Linked DNA regions of Homo sapiens. The protein of the gene in region 1 interacts with the protein of each later gene in a pairwise test. Each region holds a gene or a part of one and is shown on either strand. Other genes may lie near its edges.

Evidence for each region.
Region 2: the proteins of SRL (region 1) and SGTA interact in binary tests that used the Homo sapiens proteins (3 or more experiments, as listed by UniProt).

The regions. Positions count from the first base shown.
Region 1 is NC_000016.10:4,232,037-4,235,843, reverse strand, and holds part of SRL (sarcalumenin isoform 1 precursor), read left to right. Parts: intron 1-3,807.
Region 2 is NC_000019.10:2,769,512-2,773,318, reverse strand, and holds part of SGTA (small glutamine-rich tetratricopeptide repeat-containing protein alpha), read left to right. Parts: intron 1-3,807. UniProt on the Homo sapiens protein: Co-chaperone that binds misfolded and hydrophobic patches-containing client proteins in the cytosol. Mediates their targeting to the endoplasmic reticulum but also regulates their sorting to the proteasome when targeting fails.

The DNA.
Region 1 (3,807 bases):
TGCTGGGATTACAGGCGTGAGCCACCGTGCCCGGCCCAGGGCTAGCTTTTTTAAGTGGAAATTGGCGCGGTGGATATGTGGCCTGAGTTACTCAGATGATGACTGTAGTCCTCTCTCTTTTTTTAATTTTTATTTATTTTTTTGAGATAAGGTCTCACTTAGTCTCCCAGACTGGAGTGCAGTGGTGCAATCATAGCTCACTGCAGCCTCAACTTCCTGGGTTCAAGTGATCTTCCCATTTCAGCCTTCAGAGTAGCTGGGACTACAGGCATGTGTCACCACACCCAGCTAATTTTATTTTTTGTAGATACATGGTCTCACTATGTCACTATGTTGCTCAGGCTGGTCTCAAACTCCTGGGCTCAAGTGATTCTCCTGCCTTGGTCTCCCAAAGTGATGGGGCTACAAGTGTGAGCCACTGCACGCAGCTGACTTTGGTTTTCATTCTTCTTTGTGGACTGGGGATGGGAGTCCAGCCTCAGGTCCCCTTCATGATGTGTTCCTGGCTGTGAGGCCTGTGCCCTCTCGTGTCCCATTGGTGGGACTCACTTTGGCATGAGGACTCACTTTGGCTCAAGGTGGTGGGCTGGCTTCTGTTCTCTCCCGAGTTTGCTCTGGGAGTCCTGTCTTCTCAGGGACCTCGCCCCTGGCCTCACCTGTCTTCTTAGAGCTAAAAGTTGATCTTCAGAGTCTGCCTCCGCCCTATTTGGCTCCTTCATTCCCTCTTGGGTCTCCCTTCCCTACTCAGGCTGGGCCCCTGCTCCGACCCCTGTCCCTGCTACCAAGACACTGGTCATGGGGGGAGCTGCAGCTCATTGCAGTGGAGGCTGGTGACTCGCAGCACAGATGGGCACTTTGCTCAAGTCTGTCTGTGTTTCAGAGGATTCAGAAGATTTCAGCTCAAGGAAGATATCTCTAAGATGGAATTTCCCATTTGGCAGGCAAGGTCTCACCCAAAGTTCCTAAATCTCAACACGGAGGTGGTAAATAGTTCACCGGTTCTGAGCGCAGAGGGACTGAGCTACATAGCAGGGGTTTCTCTTCTGGGTCCTGAATGGGTGAAATAATGAATGAATGAATTGGAGCCATGGCGAGCACGGCTGCTAAGCATGATCTGCCCAGTGCTCGAGAGGTCCCAGTCCCCTGTGCTCATCCCTAGCTGGGTATCCTCAGTAGGACGTGACAGGGGTGGGTGCAGTTTAGCAAATGGGACGGATTTAACTGAGTTTCTAGAGACTGATTCATTTCCTCGATGGCGGCAGCCTGTGCTGTCATCCTTCTCTAATATCAGAGAAGTCCTGTTCCATCTATTTTCAGCCTCCCTCATCCCTCTGCAGCCCTGAAGGTGGTTTTACTCGGAGTCAAGGTCCCAGCTGCCCCCCTACCTTGGGGACATGCCTGTTGCCTGTGACTTCCTCATTGTCTGTCACAGAGGGACTCCCAGAGCAGCAATTGCTGAGCCACCCCATCTCAGGGAAGGTGGCAGAATCAGAATGAAAGCACCAAATTAAATCAGAATTAAAGCAATAATTTATTAAATTTAATTAATAGGCTAGGCACAGTGGCTCACACCTGTAATCCCGGCACTTTGGGAGGCTAAGGCGGCAGGATTGCTTGAGCCCAGGAGTTCCAGACCAGCCTGGGCAACACAGTGAGATCTTGTCTCTACAAAAAAACTTTAAAAATAGCTGGATGTAGTGGGTACACTGTGGTCTCAGCTACTCAGGGGGCTGAGGTGGAAGGATGGCTTGAGCCTAGGAGGTCGAAGTTGCAGTGAGCCAAGATTGTACCACTATACTCTAGCCTGGGCAACAGAGCGAGACCCCATATTTAAAAAAAAGAGAGAGAGAACACAGAATGAATGCAGGCCATGGCCAGCCCTGGCAGGAGAGGAGAGATTGGGTGCCAAATCCTGAAGAAATGAGAGATGCTCCCTAAAGGGAGTCCCCCTTTAGGCTGGAAAAGCAGGATGGACTCGGGTTAGGGATGAAGGCACAAAAGGATCAAATAGAAGCATGAGGGTATGGCACAATCTCAGACTCAGATGCCTCAGAGACTGCAGGGAGCAGAGAGAGTGGGGCATTTGATGAGAGCAGGGAGAGGTGTAAGGCAGCTGTGGGTCCCTCCCTGTGAGGCCCATCTCTCAGCCCCTTGTCAGCCCTGTGAGGTCCTGGCCAGCTGCACTGTGCAGGCGGGAATGAGTTGTGTCTCTGCCCTCAGGAGCTGACCTTCTATTTGGGGAGATGACACGCACTGAAAAAAAAATGTAACTAACACCCCCCCACCAGCAGTCTATGCTCACTCTGGTTGAAGTTCAGAAGATGGTTGGGAAGGTTGGCTGTGCAGAGGGACAGGGTTTCAGCCCAACGTGCAGGGAGGGGACAATTGCTGGACGGTCAGCTTGGGGAGGGTGGAAGCTGTGCCTTTGTTTAATTTGCCCGTATTTCATCACGAACAGTGTAGCATGACGCTTGGCTCATTCAAGGCAGTCAACAAGGTCTAATGAATGACAGATGATTTGTGCAGGCAGAGACACCTGAAGATGGTGACAAAAGCCAGGAGGTGAGGAAGCTCAGAGCACGGCACTGCCAGGGACAGGATGAGACTAGCTCTGGCTAGAGTGTGGGGCTCGTGTTCGGGGGAGATTAGGCCACCCTGATGAGTTGGGGCCAGTTGGGAAGAACCTTGAATGCTGAGCCAAGTGGCTCTTTCTCTCAGCCCTCTGAAGACTCTAGCCTGTTTTCTTCCAGATAGCCCCTCCCTATTCCCCGCTCTCTCAGATATTTTTGGATGCTTCTAGAGCAGGGACTGTACTCTGAGCTCAAACAGGTGCAGACAAAGTCTGGCCTGGAGTTCTGGGCTTGTAGGAAGTGGCTTGTGCTGGGAGCTCAGGGGAGAGTCCCGGGGTTTGGGAGCCCCCGCCTCCCCCCACCACTGGATTGCTGCCAAAACTGCAGCCCCCGGTCCTCCTTCAGGTAGTCATTTGGCTAGGACCTAGGCCAGCTCAGTTTTCTCCCATAGAATTTCCCCTAGGCTGGGCACGGTGGCTCTTGCCTGCAATCCCAGCACTTTGGGAGGTTGAAGCGGGTAGATCCCTTGACCGCAGGAGTTCAAGAGTACCTTGGGCAACATGGAGAAACCCCATCTCTACAAAAAAATACAACAATTAGCCAGGCATAATGGCCTATGCGTGTGGTCCCAGCTGCTTGGGAGGCTGGAGCAGGTGGATCTCTTGAGCCCGGGAGGTCATGGCTGCGGTGAACTGTAATTGTGCCAGTGCACTCCAGTCTGGGTGCCAGAGCAAGACTCTGTTGAAAAAAAAAAAAATTCGTCTAGATGGCAATAGGTAAAGGCTTGACCAAGCCATTCCTTTGGAAGCCATGCCACTGATGGGCCTCCAACTTACACAGCATTTAGGGCCTGATGTGACCACCTGTGTCCCTGTGTCCACCAGAGAGGCCTCTAGCCAATTTGTTGATTACTTAGTGTCAAGTAGTAGATGATTACTTATTTTTCTTGCACTTACCCAAGGAGATCAAGAGACCGGGAGTGCTCTCTAGGACTTGGGAAGAATCTGGAAAAGAACTGGAGAAGTGTCAAGTACTCACCCTGTCCTGGGGAGACCATCCTGGCCTCGGGCTCCCAAGACACCAGCCCACCTCCTTTCCTGCCTTTGTTTCCTTTCCGAATTGGTAGTTAAGCTGGTGAGCACTCCACCAAGTCCCTCCTTGCTTGGCGCTGTCTACACAGAGGCAGAGCGGCTGGCCTGGGGTGGGGCCCAGCGGGAGCACCGGAACCCGGGGGCAG
Region 2 (3,807 bases), on another chromosome or scaffold:
CCGTGTGGCCGCGTCACCCATCTCTGCCCTCGGTGTCCCTGCCCTGTGGCCGCGTCACCCATCTCTGCCCTCGGTGTCCCTGCCGTGTGGCCGCGTCACCCATCTCTGCCCTCGGTGTCCCTGCCGTGTGGCCGCGTCACCCACCTCTGCCCTCGGAGTCCCTGCCGTGTGGCCGCGTCACCCACCTCTGCCCTCGGTGTCCCTGCCGTGTGGCCGCGTCACCCACCTCTGCCCTCGGTGTCCCTGCCGTGTGGCCGCGTCACCCATCTCTGCCCTCGGTGTCCCTGCCGTGTGGCCGCGTCACCCACCTCTGCCCTCGGAGTCCCTGCCGTGTGGCTGCGTCACCCACCTCTGCCCTCGGTGTCCCTGCCGTGTGGCCGCGTCACCCACCTCTGCCCTCGGTGTCCCTGCCCTGTGGCCGCGTCACCCATTTCTGCCCTCGGTGTCCCTGCCCTGTGGCCGCGTCACCCACCTCTGCCCTCGGTGTCCCTGCCCTGTGGCCGCGTCACCCATCTCTGCCCTCGGTGTCCCTGCCGTGTGGCCGCGTCACCCATTTCTGCCTTCACATCCACACAGTGTTCTCCCTGTGCATGCGTCTGCATCCAAATGTCCCCTTTTTATAAGGACATTGGTTATTGCTCTAGGGACCCGCCGTACACTGGTATGATGTCATCTTACCAAATTCTGTCCGCCAAGATCTTATTTCCAGGTGAGGTCGCATTCCAAGGTCCTGGCAGTTAGGACTTCAGTGTATGGATTTGGGGGACACAGTTCAGCACACGACAGTATTCAGCCCCTGGAGCCGCCTGTCAGCGTGGCTGCGCGCAGAGGGTCCCTGGGGCCCAGCTGGGGAGTGGGACCTGGCGGCAGAGACCCCTTGCACTGTGCTGGCTCAGAAGGAGGAGCCGTGGCCTCCTGGGTGCTGGGTCAGAGTTTCCTTGTAGGTGTTTGTGGCTTTAGTCACTTCTTGGAGAGCAGATCTGGGCACAGAGCAGAGAAGAATAAGAAATTATCCAGAGGCAGCTGTCACTGTAGAAGATTCCTTCAGGCCTCGCCCTTCCTCGTCCATCCCGAGGCTGGCGGCCTCTTGGCCAGGCCCTGTCTGACCCAGCCTGAATCCGAGCGTCTGATCTCAAACCTGTGCTTCTCCTCACGGTGGTTCCCCAGCTCCTGAGGCCTCAGGCCTGCCCCTTGCCTCATGCGTCTTGGCACACAGAGTGCAACTAAGAATAAGGTCCACTATGCACGGGCTGGGCCCGGCCCCGGAGGAAGGCCGGTGACACACAGCCCCGCCACCCTGTATGTCAGCCAGTGAGGGACAGAGATGGGGAAGACCCAGCTGCTCAGAGACACCAGAGGCCCTGGACAGGGAGTGGATTCCAGGGAAGGCGGCTGCCCAGCCCAGCCCGGAAGGAGCAGGTGGAGAAGGGAGGCCCAGCCAAGGGAACCTCATCGCAAGAACAGAGGATGGGGGTCCCATCCCACGGCCAGGGCCTCCCCAAGGGCTGCCCCTCCATGCGCCAGCACCACAGCAACCCCTCTCCATGCCTGCTTCTGGCCTCAGAGCAGGTTCTCCAAATGCTCCCAGTGAAACTGCACAGCCGGGCAGCGTTTCTGGAATAGCCTCAGCATGTGTTGATCTGGACACGGAGGGTGCACCAGCACCCGTCCACGTACCTGCCTGTGTGGGGGTGTTCACTCAGCGTTGTGCACGCCTGGTCTCGTACCCCTCCCCCCCCCCCCGATGGGGAGGTGCTGTCGCCATCCATGGGGGACAGAAGAGGAAACTGAGGCTCAGCAGAGTTAAGTCGCTTCCCCTAGGTCACACTGCCAAAAACAGCCAACCGAGGTCTATGCCACGAGACTCACCACGAGGAATCATGATTTTTTTTTTTTGACATGGAGTCTCACTCTGTTGCCAGGCTGGAGTGCAGTGGTGTGATCTCAGCTCACTGCAACCTCCAACTCCCTGGTTCAAGTGATTCTCCTGCCTCAGCCTCCCGAGTAGCTGGGATTACAGGCACGTGCCACCATGCCAGCTAATTTTTGTATTTTTAGTAGAGATGGGGTTTCACCGTGTTTGGCCAGGATGGTCTCTGTCTCCTGACCTCGTGATCTGCCTGCCTCGGCCTCCCAAAGTGCTGGGATTACAGGCGTGAGCCACCACGCCTGGCAGAATCGTGATATTAACAACAGATATCGCAGGGCGCCAAGCGCTGGGCTGACAGCTTCCGGGTTATTTTTTCCCCGACCCCTGACAGCAGCCACAATGGAGCTCCCCATTTTACAGACATGGAGGCGGAGGCTCAGGCCGAACAACCCGTCCGAGCTCACAGGCTTTGCAGGCCACGATCCGGGAACCGCCTGGCCTCTCCCTCACAACCCGGCTGGCTTAAAACAACCAAGATTGATTTCCCTCGCAGTTCTGGAGGCCAGAAGTCTGAGATGAAGGTGCAGGCTGGGCCACGTTCCCTCTGAAGGCCCCAAGGGAGGCTCCGTCCTGCCTCTTCCAGCTGCTGGGGGCCAGCGAGCCTCACCTCTCTTCGTGTGGCCACATGGCCTCAGCCTCTGCCTCCGTCTTCACGCGGCCGTCTCCGTGCGGCCATGTTCAATCCCTGCATTAGGGCCACCACAGCGACCTCATCTCCACTTGTTTCCATCTGCAAAGACACAGACAAGGTCCCGTGCTCAGGTCCCAGGTGGACGTGACTAGCCCAGAACTTGGCTGCTCCAGCGGCGGGGGCGGGGGCGGCTGCTTCTCCACGCAGCTTGTTACATCTGAATGTTTAGAGTCACCATCGCCAGCCTTCGGGGGAAATGGAGGCACAGTGAGGCCAAGCCTTCCTGAGCTGGCGCCTCAAGGCAGCCGGCCAGCCTGCCCCGGGGGAAGCTCACGTCGGGGCTTCCTGCTCAGAGCCGTGAAGGTCACTGTGGCCGAGGCCCCTCCAAGTTGGCCCAGGCACCCAGGAAACCTGTGTGAAAGGTCTTGTACTAAAAAAAGACCTGTCCATAGACTACAGCTCCAGATTCCAGAACAGCCTCTCCTGATGTCACCATCTGGCACCCTTTAGAGCTTTGGCAGGAAACTGCAGGGACCACAGACATGAGCAGAAGCAGCTGTCAAGTCCTGGGAATGAGGAACAAGACAGGGTATCCGAGGGGGGACCAGGCGGATGTCCGAGGGGGAACCAGGAGGGTTTCTGAGAGGGAACCAGGAGGGTGTCCGAGGGGGCATCCAGGAGGGTATCCGGGGGGGAACCAGGCGGGTGTCCGAGGGGGGCACAGGCGGGTGTCCGAGGGGGGCACAGGCGGGTGTCCGAGGGGGGAACCAGGCGGGTGTCCGAGGGGGGAACTAGGCGGGTGTCCGAGGGGGGAACCAGGCGGGTGTCCGGTGGGGGAACCAGGCTGGTGTCCGCTGGGGGAACCAGGAGGGTGTCCGGTGGGGGAACCAGGCTGGTGTCCGCTGGGGGAACCAGGAGGGTGTCCGCTGGGGGAACCAGGAGGGTGTCAGGTGGGGGAACCAGGCGGGTGTCCGAGGGGGGCACAGGAGGGTGTCCGAGGGGGAACTAGAGGGGGGTCTGAGGTGGAATGAGGTAGGTAGGCCTCCCAGGGGGAACAAGACGGGTCCCCAAGAAGTCCCTGGGGGGAGTCCTCTGCAAGTCCTGTGAAACAGTGATACCAGGGCAGGCACACCTGGCCCCGTTGGGTACCTAAGAAATGCTTGCTGACATGCCACAAAAGAGGTAAATTGAGGAAAGGGGCAGTGGCTCTGGCTGAGGACAAGGTCTCTCCCTCTCAGCACTGTGG